Linked DNA regions of Homo sapiens: region 2 is linked to region 1. A link means that fine-mapping ties the variant in region 1 to the expression of a gene that starts in the linked region. Tissue or cell type: lymphoblastoid cells. Region 1 holds a variant in brackets; the other region holds the start of a gene. All regions are shown on one strand. Distances are from middle to middle.

Region 1 (6,438 bases):
ACTCACAGCCTGTGTTATACTGACGATGAATCGCCTCTGACTTCAACTCACTGTTTCCTTCTCTATCATGATACTCACAGCCTCTGTGTTATATGCAGAAGATGAATCAAAGAAAAATTGAACTTGAGTGCACTTAAGGAGGTCACAGTCAGTCTATTCAGGGAACAACTATTATGTAAATGTGATTTGAAGTTGAATTTTTAAATAGTTACAAAATAAATAAGGGCAATAGACACAAAATATATCTGGCCGTTCTGAAATAATCCATAATAGCTGTTTCCACATTTTCTCTGAAAGAAATTAAAACTTTCCAACTTTTCAACTTCTGACATATTAAATGTTAAATTTTGAGAGCCCTTGCCAAGAATAAGGACATAATAACTCCTCTTTCTGGGAAGACTTTAGCTGTGATTATGATGCAGGGACATTTTGGAATGAATTTACAAGTTTCAAATATATTTTGTATTCTTGTAGTAATTACAAAAAGTATTTAAGACATTCAACTCACCAAAACTTCCAACATTCTGGGATGCTTCGGTGCTTTAATATAAATATCCAACAAATCTGAGACACATTTTATGTACATATGTATATATATGAATAGATGATGATGATAGATAGATAGATAGATAATGTGTATCAAACACTACCCCTACTGGCAAATGGTGGCTGAGATCTGTGTACAATTTAAAAACATTCCAATAAACTGCAAAACACACCTGCTGACCTCGTCCATTATTTGTGGCCAAAGTGAAGCAAGGACCAGAGGAGCGACCAGCACATGTGAAGACCTAAAAGGTGTTTGCTCAGTAAATTGAGGGGGAGCAGGAGGGCAGGGAGATGCGGGGTTTCCTAAGAAATCTCTGCTGCTCTTTAGGAAATGGCCATCACTATCATTAAGCCACTATCATTAAGCCACTATCAACAGCTCAACCAGGACACGGGACAGATAAGGGAACACTATCCACACACAGTGAACTGGCCCCCTGTTCATTCTTCTTCTGTACCCGCTTGTTTGACTTTCATGTAAATTGCTTAATGCATGTTTAACTTGGGGATTTATTGTAAGTATAAATGGAGTCAAATCTTTATTTGAAGCATACAGCATCCCAGGAATTGTTCTAATACTAATACTAAAATTAATACTTTACATTTCTTCTTTCCCAAGAGCCTATGAGTTACTTCCTATTATTTTCTCTCTTTACATATTAAAAAATGCAGGTTCTCAGGGTACCTGCCTAATATCACACACCTAACCTGAGATAGAACGCACGTCTCAGCCCGAGAGAGAGAGCCAGCGCACGTAACTCTGCCTGATTCCTCTCAGGGACACCATCCTCCCTCTGCAGTCTACACTTTGGATTTAGGCCACTGTCTGTGGGTTTCATCAAAGAAACATAAAATGATTGAGACATTGTTTCTAGTGTTTTGTAACCCTCAGAAATCATCCCCTCTCAAAAGAAAATCAGTCACTTTTCCTCTATAAAACTTCAGTGACAGGAAAATAAATACATCATTGTATGAAAATCTAAAACTATAGAATATATATTATTATGTCCATAAATAATTGGAAATTAAAAATCTATTTACCATTATGTCACAGTAAATAAGTGTTGTATAGAAGTTATAAGAAAGAATAACATTTGCTTTTCTCCATTAAAAACAGATGATAAAGAAAAAATGAGGAAATGCTGTGAAGAACTAATAGAACGTTTCAGAAGCAGAACAAGTCGAGAGCAGTGATGACCCTTTTCTTCCTGCTAGTACCTCCTGTCTGTCTGGCTGAACTCACCATCAGATGATGTCTTGAACCTCACCTAGATGGGCTGGTGGTGTGTGGCCAGGTTAAGAGCACCAACAGGAGTAAGAAAGTGACCTGCCTGGTTTTACCGTGTGCACTAGGGGAGGGGTTGAAAGCTTTCGGTTGATACATCACCTCTGGGAGTTGAAGAAGAATGCAATTAAGAGAGCTAAAGAAGTCAGTAGGTATCTCTCCTGAACAATTCTGGTTTTCTTCTAATAGCTTTTACAATTTTTACCTCTGTTATGAAATGCAAACTTTTAACCAATATTAGTAATAGTAATCTCAAATCTCATCATCATCAAAATCTTATTTATGAAATGTAGGAGTTAGTTCATATACAGCCTTAGCCTTTTCCACATTATAAAATATATTCCATATATATGTGTGATCTTCATTTAATATTCAAGTAAATGTTGTAAGATATTGTTATTTTTATTCTAACATTTCACAGGTATAGAATCTGAAACTCAGAGGTCAACTGATGTGTCAAAGATACCTCCACAAATCAGTACCTTGATTAAAACTAAAATTGGAGTCATCTTCATATCTTCATCTTTCTCCCTCTTCATTAGGACCGATTGTAGTCTGTTTCCCTCTCACTCACTTGCAATCTTTATTGCTTTAGTGTTGCATTTGATTTTTATCTTTGTTTTTGTTTTAAATACTGTCATTAAAGTCATAGAAAAATCTAAAGTAAAACTGGTTGAATAAAAATTTTAAAATCGACTCTAATGTAATAAACCAGACAAAAATGATACTTTACATGTTATATCTTCCCTTTAAACTACAAATATTCATTGAGTGTATACCCTGTATTAGGCTGTTGGAATAAAACAGGGAAGAAGACAGAAGAAACTGCACCGCCATCTTAGATCTTGCAGCCAAATTCCTCTGAACTTTTCTCTAAAGACGTGCTCTGGAAAAATGTTGATCATTTTCCTACATCATGGAGGTCTTTTCATGACCACCTTTGTCTAGACAATGTCCTGTTTTTAGGTGCACGTTTGAGGGCTGGAGTCTCTGACCCACAGTGCTGCAGCCTGCACGTGGTTTGTCCTGACTTCTTTGCTACTTCACTTTTCGTAAGGCTCTGAGAGTGCAGGCCCTTGTGGGTGGACACTGCAGGGTGAGAGGAAGAAGTAAACTACTTTTTTCCGTTTCTGATGGGGGTGTGGGTCAGCAGCTATAAGCAACAGGGACCATGGGGGGCCTCAGACTTCAGCACCTGAGAGGCAGTTTCAGTCGTATTGGGGAGATGCAGGCATCTGGGTTGCTGCACATCACCAGGGCAGGGTTCTCTCAGCAGCCCTGGAGTGCAGAGTTCCCATCAGCTCAGCAGTGAGGGGCACATGGGGCTCCAGTGGTGAGGACTCTTGGTCCTTGGATGACAACACTCCCCTGCCCACTTCTCCAGCCTTCCCTGTAACCCTTTGCCACCTCTAACCAATCTTCTGTGTTACATCTCTTCGGTTTGCAATATGTAGTGTTCGTATATGACTGGACAGTATCTACTGGAGTTAATATCTATCAGAGTAATTATATCACAATTGCAATCTTCTCCTAAGAGTGAATAGTGACATTAAAAATTTCAACATTATAAATTATGCAGAAATAAAACTAATTATACAAAAAATACACTCTGAATGTCAGTTTTTCCCTGAGACAATCTACCATTTGATATACGGTGATTCACACTTCTTAATATACAACATTGAATTACTTTTCCAAAAGCCTCTTCAAATTTTGCTGCAGAATTAAACTTCACTTGCACCAGCTCTGAATTATGTGTGCTTTTCCTTCTTGGTCAATTTCATAGGTGTATCATTATTTGTCTTTTTTAATTAATATGTTTATATAACTTTTCATGTTTATCCATGTAACTACTGCTTCTATTGAAATGTTTTCTTCATAAATATAAATGTGTTTTTGGTATGAAAATAATAACTGGCCAGATGCGGTGGCTCACACCTGTAATCCCAGCACTTTGAGAGGCCGAGGTGGGTGGATCACCTGGGGTCAGGAGTTCGGGACCAGCCTGGCCAGCATGGTGAAACCCCATCTCTACTAAAACTACAAAATTAGCTGGTGTGGTAGCAC[G/A]TGCCTGTAATCCAAGCTACTTGGGAGGCTGAGACAGGAGACTCAGTCAAACCTAGGAGGCAGAAGTTGCAGTGAGCCAAGATCACGCTATTGCACTCCAGCCTGGGCAAAAAGAGTGAAACTCTGTCTCAAAAAGAAAAGAAAAAAAATAGTAACTCTTTGTGAATAGTATCAACTAAAATATTTTTATTTCAGTTTCATTCTGATATTTTGTGTCATCAGAATTTTTTAAAGTATTTTGTTTAATATATTAACTTTAATAATTTCGTTAACTGTTTTGTGCTTACAAAGTCTTTATGCATTTGGGGATTATGTAAAGCATCTACCTTTACACTTTTAATGAGTTTCAGAGGTTTTTTTGGTACCTTTGAGTTATAATACAAAAATAATTTATTTGGGTGTGATATGCAGTGAATTGCTAACATTATTGCTTTTAAGTTAAAATTAAATTCCAATGTTGAATGGTATTTTCTTTTATTCATTAATTTCAAAAATAATTAGTAACTGTTTGTTCCAGGCACTATCTAGGTTTATGATGTTTGAAACAAAGATTCTTCCCACACAGCATTTATATACTAGTGGTAAATACAGGCAATAAACTAATAAATATGTAATGAAATGTCAAGTATTAATAATCACAGTAAATAAAAAATAAAGGCAGAGAGATGAGATAGGAATGATTAGCGAATCTATTTAACACAGGCTAGTTAGGAGCCCTTTATTTAGAAGGTGAAATTTCATCAGATCCGTAAATGAAACAATGGAGTCACTCGTAAACAACGGGGCAGAGATGCTTTAAGCAGAGGAAACAGAGAAAGTTAAAAGCTGTGAGACTGAAAGTAACTTGCAACGTTTGAACAGCAGCAAGAAGATCTGTGGCCCCAGACTGAGGTGAGAAAGTTGGCAAAACAGAAAATGGGGTTAGAAGTGGAACCAAGGAACCGGTCCTATAAAATCATGATGGTCCTGAGAAGGACCAGGGACAGGCAGAGGTGTGTTTAAGAAAGGGAAGACAAAAGTATACACGGCACTCAAGAGAGTGCATGTGCACTTAGAAAAAGAAAGGAAGTCTCAGCCAATGTTTGGCCCCTGTCTTCTAAGAACTCTTCAGGAAGTTTACCAGGCATGCTCACAGTCTGTTCTGACTGTAGCCTGGCTTCCCCTCCCCACCCCACCCCACCATACAACTCCCAGCAACAGACAGCACTCAGAGAATCTCCAGAGAGTGAAGGGCCCCAAAGCTTTGACTCTCCTTGCTTCTCGGTGAATCCCACTCTGAGATATCACTGGAGGACGGACAGAGAGGAAAGACATTTGGAACAGGTATATGATTATCACTGAGAAGGCTTGAGCGAGAATGCAGGAAAGGGTTTGAGCTAGTCCTGATGAGACATATGGTGTCTGGGCAAGGGGTGTGGTGGAGGAGGTGAAGTTGGATTGCCGTTTATACACACAGGAATATTGGGGCTGGGCAGGTTGGCATGGAACGCTGAAACTGAAATTTGGGACTCCAGTTGCCCAGTACACATCTACATGAAGATGATGCAAGGCTAGTGTATACACGAATCCAGAGGTCATAAGAGAAGGCAGTCCTGAAATCATGGTTTTGAGAACCAGGGTGTGTGGAGGAAACAACGGGATCACACAAGGAAGGAGGGTCAACATCTTATACCAGAAGCCAGTGCAGGGGAGGCTAGGTTTCCACATTATCTCTTCTTTTCCATTGGTCTTTCACTGAATTCCTTTAAAATATCTTGTTTTATTGGGTGTCCCCTCATGATAATTTTAAACAACTAGTGAAACAATTCTTGTCTTCATGTATGTTCATGTTCAAAATAAGCAAGTTTTTAAGTTTGTTTTTCCTTTCAGTTGATCTATTTGGCTAGGTTCAAAAGTTCTAACTAATTGTATTGATTAGAATACAATGAAATACATTTGGGAAGAATTGATATTGTTAAAATGTTGCAGATTTTTATAAACAAGCACAATAGGTCTCACAGAGATATCCAAATACTTAGAGGTCGGGTCTGGATTTTAAAGTAATTTTAATAAAATTCTTCCACAATAATTGAGATTCTGAGATTTTTATAATTTAATTTTTTGGAGAATATTTTTCATTTAAAAATACTTAAAAAGCATTAACAGTGACAGAAAAGCTATTGATATATATTTTTTCAACATTAATATTTATGGTGGAAACCCTGCTTAAAGTTCTACTTTTTTTACATTTTAAATGTAAACTGAGAAAATATTTATAAAAACAAAAATAACATTTTAAGAATTAAACTATAAATATATAAAACATGTCAAACATTTTGTAAATGATCCTGAAGGCACCATCAGAGATATAAAGAAATGCAAGATACATGCACAGAACAAAGGAAGAGGGGCCACCACCTTTATGGACTGGAGGTCAGGATATCAAGCCAAAGAGGACCTCAAGTCCTGAAATCTAACGAAACTTGCCCTGCCAGGCTCAAGTTTGCTTTGGCTCTAAGACTTCTATTTAACTTCCAATTTCTCTTTTTCAGAATAGG
Region 2 (8,108 bases), 24 kb before region 1:
CATTTTCCTCAACCTGGATACATCAAAGTTAAGTTCATGCTGAACTCTTGCCTGTTTCAATAGTATATGACTAGTTAAAGCACGTTCTTACCTCTTTAACCAGTTTTCCATTTTGTTTGTCTTGACAGTTATCTGGCACTGGAACTCAAATCCAGATTGGAACCCTTATCTGGCCCTTGGACAAAACAGTCAATCCTTTCTGCATGCGTAGAAACCTTTGTCTGATCTTCAGTTGACTTACTTTTTTGGGTATTTGGTGGCGAGTTCAACTTCTGGCCTAACACTGTGTAGAAATTTGCACTGAGGCATGGCGAGGACATATTTTCTTCCTATGTTTCTGGCTGTAGTCTCTAAGGCTGGGTTATAATTCCAGGCTGCTTTTGAAAGACATCTCCTGGGCTGGCTGTTTATCTTCCTGGCTCCCTGTTTTCAGTGGGAATTCACTTCCTAACTCCTGTGCTGGAATGTTCACTCTGGCTTCTTGTGAGACCTCTTCATTCTATTTGAACTTACTCTTCCCACAGGAACTCCACAGTTAAACCCCTTTTGGGTTCCTACTCTCTATATATACTATGACACTAACCATGTCTGCTTCTATTTTAGGCAAAATGACTTTACTGTGGATAATTCGGAACTGCAATGGTTTATTTGAAAATCTTAAGATCTGCCTAAAGTGGCTCTTATAGGACTGCTCCCTTCCCATTTCCTTCTTTTTTCCTTCTTTCTTTTACCATCTTAACTTTTTCCATTGAACTCCCCTGACACTTTGATATGCACCTCTTTTCCATTAAACACCCCTGACTTTTGATATATACCCATCCTTTTACCCCTACCAGATGTTTCACTTACCTCTTTAGCCCCTCGACTCCCTATAGTCACTGGAACGTATGCCTCCTGATTCACAGGGGGTTCTCGAGAGACTGATGCACACACAAAGCAACACACGGGGCTTCCTGGAAACAGAGATATAATCTACAGCCTGTGTAAGATTACATTTTAGGTGAAAAACCCACAAATACCCCAAAATATGTTACTAATTAAAATCTGTCCTCACTACCTTAACCAGTGTCTGGGCTTTACCTTTGAAACTGGTGTCCTTATTTAAAAAAAGTTGGACATGCACCCAGGAATATTATCTTTTGAAGATAAAGGAATAGATTGAAGTAATGCTACTTCAAGCCAAGGAATGCCAAAGGTTGTCATCAAACTACCAGAATGCTATGGTACGCATAGCAAATGAATACATCAGCTTTCAACAACATCATCAAAAATTACAAGTCATGGTAGCAGGCAAAAAATATGCTTTAAAAAGAAAAACAAAATTAGAAAAGGACTTGGACATGGCAAGCCAATCATGTGATTTCTTGATGTTTCTTCTGTGTTTTCTGCCTAGAAAAACCCACTGCACTCACTGCTGGGTGGATCTATCTGAACCTCTTATGGCTCTGAGTGCCATCTGAAAAAGATGATGGTTCCCTTTACCTTGAGTCGTTTTCCCCAGATACACTAGAACCCATTATTTCAGTTCTTTTAGGTCTCTTCTGTGCTATTCGATTATCAGAAAAGATTTCAATGACCAATGAATAAAAATGACTGATCTGTCCCTTATGCTGTCTTATTTTTCTTCATAAAATTAACAATCTTGAACATATTTTTTACAATTGTTTCTCTTTTCCACAATATAGTGTCATATTAATAAGATGAGACATTTTGCTCATTTTTATCACTGCTGTGTGCTGAAAGCCTAACACAGTGGTAGCCCCAAAGTAGATGCTCAAAAATAAATATGCTCTGAATGAGTATATTTAGTCATTTCCTGGAAGGAGAGGCTGGGTCAAACAGAGTGCTAAGGACTCAGAATCCTTACTGCTAGAATGACAATGAAATGACAGCATCATGTTAGTGGCACATTTAAAATGAAACAGTATCAATATTGAAAATATTTGTAAGGCTTATTTGAAAAAAGAAAATCATAACACATTTACCTATAATTCAGAAATTTAAATTTCTAGATAATTTCTAAGATTAAGGTTTTTTAATTTCTTAAACTTTTAGATAACCATTTTAAAGAATATATATTGTATATATCTCTGTTATTAAAAAGTAATTGAAAGTAATTACTTCATATTATATTAAGGCATTATAGCTATAAATATGGTGTAAACTGTAATGGTTATTCTGCCCTTTCTTCTCTTGCTACCTCCTGCCATCCTAAGAGAAGTTGCCTTAAGCAGAATTGTCTCATCCCGATCCCCAGAATCACTCTATCCACTCACACATTATCTTTCCCAAGCTTGAGGAAAAAATAACAGAGTGAGAGACGAAGATTATGTATTATTATTGCGACTCTTGGTGTTTGCAAAATTCCAAAATACTGAGATATGGCTAAATAAAATTCTATGCAACTTCTTTTGAATGCATGAATGTATATATTTATGTAAGTTTTATTTTGTTTACATTTTGTTTTGGTAATTAGAGTTTTATTTCCCTTGGTGACAGAACTTTCTGTTGTCTTTCAGATGAGTATATTTTTGATTTTGATTTAAATATAATTTCCCAAAATAAACATTTTTGACTTATACCTATTTTATGTTTTTTATGATGTCAAGTCCATGGCATTTGTTCAGGGCGAGACTTTAATGACTGAACTTCATGATTATCTTTCTACTTGCCAAACACTTCATTTATCTTTCCCATTATTCAAGAGCTGCTATATCCTTGAGTTTGATATTCTTTATCTGGAATTCAATGCAAAGCTCTGCTAAGTGGTCATGATGATCCAAGAGTGGATGTTAGAATTCTAGGATGCCACAGGTCTTTCTCTTTCCATAAATCTTAAAGTCTGTAGGTTTATGAAAGACAGTTTTGTCACAGCCAGTTAGATTCATGGGTTAGCATTGTGGTGTAAGGAGGTGAATATAATGAATGAACTCAGCAATGAACAGGTTTTCTGATGCCAGAAGAAGTTTTCCCTGCGTGTTCTATAGGTCTTGTGCCGTGTATCAAGTATTTCTTCTCTTGATCTACTGTGCAATGGGTATAAGGTTTCAGTGACACAAGATGAAGTCCTAGAGATTGGCTGTGCAGCACCGTGCCTGGAGTTCACAGTACTGAATCGTGCACTGAAAAAGTGTAAGAGGGTAAATTTCCTGTTAAGTGCTCTCACCACACTAAATAAATAAAATTTATCATGAGCCAGGCACTGAACTAAGCTCAGGATATATTATGATGAACAAATTTAGACATGACAAACGATCTCAATAAAACTTAAAATGTTTTGCTACAATAATCACCTGGAAAAAAAAGTCAGTCTTCTCTACAGTATAATGTGGATGGACACAAATGAGTGGTTTTAAGATTATGTTTCCTTCCCTTGTTTTTAAAAAACATTTATAATAAGTAAAATTCTTCAACAAGAGCAAAATCATATCAGTTTCTAGTATCAGTGTTTGCCAAAGACTGCTCTTTAAAATAAAGGGATCACCTCAGTCCAATCTACTTGACATGATCCTACCTTGTCAGACAAGCTAGTCAAGATTTGGAAAAGGCAACTACATTTCAATCCTTTGAAAATCTACATAATCCTAAGCACAGACTTATCAGGATTGGTAATGGGTCAAGTTTAGGGACACGTTACAATTACAATGTAATTTTTGGCTGTAGTTGATCAGCAAGTTTACATCCATATATTCATCCAAGTTGCTCTTCCTCAAAAAAATTAATATGTTGACATTTCTACCTGCAAGATTTGTGATTCATGTTTTAATTATTACAATTTTCATATAACATGTTTTAGAATACCTGATATTGTGGGTGATCTCAATTTCTTCCTGGGTGATCTTTCCTGGTTTAATATTTGTATGATTCCAATGATAAATCTCAGATAATATAAATAGCAAAAAATTAAAATACTGAGAAAATAATATACAACTTATTAGGGGAGAAAGAGGAAGAGATGCTCCCTTAGTGGCACACAGAAGGTGGGATGCCTGGTCTGCTTTTTCTATATTTTTGCATATTTGGGGTTCAGAAAACTGAAACCCATAGAGTCACCATATGCTACATACACTGAACCTAAAGTAATAAGTAGTTCTGAAAGAGAACAGAGGAGAAGAGGGACTCCCTACAGGGATAAATGGTCCAGACTTAAGGTATGGCTTATTTATGCTTTCAACACCCCAGGGACTACAATCCCAGCTGACCAATTAAACTTCGAGAGTTTCAGTGGAGATTTAAGGTCCTGGGATTACTTCTGGAAAAAAATTAAAAAGCTTACCGTGCAATTGGCCCAATACTCAAACCAAAATCTAATGGACAGAAAATATACAATTTACAAACTTGTGCTTTTTTTAAATGTTAATTAAAAATATGTTTATTAAACCCACAGATTTTTTTAGTTGGAAATTTTAAAATTAAATTTGATTAATGAAAAAATAAAATATAAGGAAAAATGACATTTGGAAGCAAAATGAAGAATTTCAGAAGAAAGAAAACATTCAACTAAATGATCTTTTGAACATATTGAATTCAGTTTGCTAGTGTTGAGAATCTTTACATCCATGATCATAAAATAAATTGGCCTGTAATTTTCTTATACCGTCCTTGTCTGACATTGGTGTTAGGGTAATGCATGAAAAAATGTGTTGGAAAGTGCACCCTTTTTAATTGTTTGGAAAAGTTTGAGAATAGCATTAATCTGTCTTTAGATATTTGGTAGCAATCACCAGTAAAAGCATCAAGTCCTGAACTTTTAAGTTTATTATTATTATTATTGGTGATTTAATCTCTGTACTAGTTATTAATTTGTTCAGGTTTATTCTTTCTTCAGGACATACATGTCTAAGAATTTATCCATTTCTTCTACGTTACTCAATTTATTGACATAATTGGTCATGATAATCTCTTATGACCCTTTGTATTTTGGTAGTATTGACTAATTTCTCCTGCTTTACTTATAGTTTTATTTGAGTCATCTCTCTTAGTTTTCTTGGTTTGTCTACCTAAAGGTTTGCCAATTTTCCTCACGTTTTTACAGAACCAACTCCTCGTGTTACTGATCTTTTCTTTTGTCTTTCTTATCTGTTTAATTCTGCTCTAACCTTTATAACTTTCTTCTTTCTTCTAACTTTTGGCTTTTTTCTTCTTTTCTAATTCCCAGAGTGCCAAGTTAGGTTGCTTATTTGGGATCATTTCTCTCTCTGTCTCAGTAGCTATCAGAACTACTTTTGCTGTACCCCATGATTTGGTATGTTATTTGTCCATTTTTGTTTGTCTCAGGATATTTTTAAATTGTCTTTATTTTTGGGTCCATTTGTTGTTTATGAGTGTTGAGAGTGGGGTATTATAATCCCCTACTATTATCATATTGCTGTTTATTTCTTTTTTGTGTTCTGCTCATGTCTGCTCCATCCATTTTGGTGTTCCAATGTTTCCTGGGCCTATATTGAGGCACCCTAACTAATAACACTTTGCACATCAATTCATCTCATTTCTCACAAAAGCAAACAGAACAAAACTGTTCAAACATACATAAGGGAGTCCTAGTTGCTGATACAAACTTTTAGATAGTCTTCCAATCTTTTTATCCTACTTTAATTCTCCAATGATATAATAAACATCCAAGACAAAAAAAATGAAAAAAGCACAAATGATTCCTTCACTGAAATCAGGAGACAAAGGCAATCCATCAACTATAAATTACATGTAAGGAAGGGGAAGAAAGTCACGGACACTCATCAGAATTGGTACAGAAACTCCATATTGGAAGCAGGAAGTCCGGCAGAGAAGAGACCCAGTCAAGGTCACTGGTGGTGGTAATGATAAAAAATACCAGGAAATATTATTCCCCAAGAAGGAGAGGGTCCTCTCACAAGTGTAAACTGCTATACCCAAGCCTGATGAACACGGAGCCAGGTAGCAATCTGAGGATTATTGAAGAGATAGATGCAGGGAGTATACCTGGGAAAGAAGTGGTGGAGATAACAGGACAATCTTGCCTAAACTAAGGGGGTCACCATCCCAGGCATAACCACGAATAGGAAGGTGGTAGAAATGAACATGGAGAAGACAGCAGGAATGCATACAATGAAGCTGTAGGGCTTGAGAAACAAGAATATTCCCCAATGCCTGCAAGCCCTATGCAATCCACCTGGTAACAACTGGAAAGGCAAATCAAATTCTTAAAAATGAAATTAGAAAATGCAACGTCTTTCCAAAAATACTATAGAAAAAAAATAAATCTACCCCAAAATTATTGCCTTAAATCGGAGCTAAATACTGATATAAACTTCAAATACTCTACAACCCCAAATCCTTAATAAAGCAGTTTTATAAATGAGAAAACATTTTAAAACAGAAATATGACGGTTCAGAGAACTGATGACCCACTAAAAAGAGACGACAATCGGCCAACAGAAAGATGTGAAATGGGAATCACCCTGAGTCAGGAGAGAATTTAAAGGGAGTGATGGGGACGAAGCTGAATGGCTGCTCCGTGGCTTGTGAGTGATTGTAAAATAATAAAGATGATGGAGAAAATATAAAAGCAAGTGTAAAGAAATAGTGATAAGCACTAGTGTAAACATATTGGCTACAATTGAATGATGAAGGAAAGGAGAATAGACATATCTTCTGAAATATTTTCTGTTCTTCCTTATGCTAGGAAACTAGTAGATACTGTGTAAAGAGAGGGAAATTAAGGATATTTTAGTCTTATAAAATATGTTTTATGCATAGGTATTTGTACATAATATACACATTTTGTTAAATAGAAAATATTAAATACCACACAATGAAATAATTTTGAAATAAAGGCAAAGAGTTGATTTTGTCTTCTTACTGCAAAGAATTATAAGTATGTGAGGTGATGCATATGTTAATTACCTCAATTTACCCATTCCACACAATATACATATTTTAAAATATCACATTGTACATGATAAATATATACAATTTTATTTGTTCATCACAAAAATTTAAAAATGGCAATTAAAATAAAGGTAATAACAAAGTGTGAGGGAATATGATTAAACTAATGGGGTATATCAATAAACACAATGCATTTAATACACTGAATAAAGAAAAAAAGATTACTATTCTCTCTGCCTGGTGGTCTCTTTTCCGATACGTTGTGACCCATTTCTTCAACTGATTTAGGTCTCTCTTCTCTGCTCTCTTGATTATCAGAGAAGACATCTCTGAGCAGTGAATATAAAACAGTAATTATCTCCTACACACCCTATTTTACTCTTCTTTATAATGTTTATCATTCCTGATAGTTTTTTTGCGATTATTATCTCTTCTCTACCATAGAATGTAAGATCCAGGAGATAAAGCATTTTACCATTTTTATCACTAGTGTCTTTCCAATGCCTAAAATATAGCACCTATTCCAAAACAGACGCTCAAAAATAAATGTTTCTTGAGTCAATGCATTTATTCATTTTTGAGGAGGAGAGATTGGGTTAAACAAGAGGGTTAAAAACTCAGAATAGAATGACAACCAAACGAGAGCATAGTCAGTATTAATACAGAAAATATTTACAAGACCTACTTGAAAGAAGATATAGTTGTAACACATTTTCCATGATTGTTGAGAAATTTATATTTCTGGGTACATTAACTTCTTAGGCAACTAGAGCTTACTTGTTTAATTCTTTAAGCTTAATAAATTTTAAAGTATGGAGTACAATATGCCAAGTGAAACAAGTCAGGCACAGAAAGAAAAATGCAGCATGAGCTCATTTATGTGTAAAATAAATGGAAATTGAGTAAGATAAATAGGGAGTTGAAGGGCAGTTGCCAGAGTCAGGGAAGTAGACAAATTGGGATAATGTAGGTAAAAGAAGACAAAATTACAGTTATGTAACATAAAGATATTTAGAGATCTAATGTACAACAGAAGGACTATAGTTCTATTTTATTATACATTACAAATTTGCTAAGAGAATAACTAGATTATATGTGTTTTTATCACAAAAAAGTAAACTGCAGACAGTGATGGATGTGTTAATTTGCTAGCATGTGGTAATTATTTCACTATAGATATCTACATCAAAACATGTTGTACATCTTGAGTTTATACAATAAAAAAAAAATACTCGATTTAA

Direction of the effects. Positions count from the first base shown, and alleles are read on the strand shown. Sizes are in standard deviations (SD) of each study's normalised expression.
With allele G in place of A in region 1, the expression in lymphoblastoid cells of the gene that starts at base 4,158 in region 2 is lower (moderate effect, 0.62 SD a copy in GTEx).

Evidence for each region. PIP is the estimated chance that this variant, and not a neighbour inherited with it, causes the effect.
Region 2: OR2G6 starts here. The variant in region 1 is the best candidate, but not a certain one, in a credible set for the expression of OR2G6 in lymphoblastoid cells (GTEx, PIP 0.59).

What each region holds. Positions count from the first base shown.
Region 1 is chr1:248,480,713-248,487,150 of GRCh38, reverse strand. LOC105373279 (a long non-coding RNA gene) reads left to right here and starts at 5,090. Exons shown (of 3, transcript XR_007067006.1): 1 at 5,090-5,224. It overlaps LOC105373277 (a long non-coding RNA gene), which reads left to right. Exons shown (of 3, transcript XR_002958498.2): 3 at 1,667-2,530. The variant G/A (reference allele first, on the strand shown) is at 3,902.
Region 2 is chr1:248,504,123-248,512,230 of GRCh38, reverse strand. It overlaps OR2G6 (olfactory receptor family 2 subfamily G member 6), which reads right to left and starts at 4,158. Exons shown (of 2, transcript NM_001013355.2): 1 at 3,802-4,158. The region is part of intron 1 of LOC105373277 (a long non-coding RNA gene); the gene reads left to right.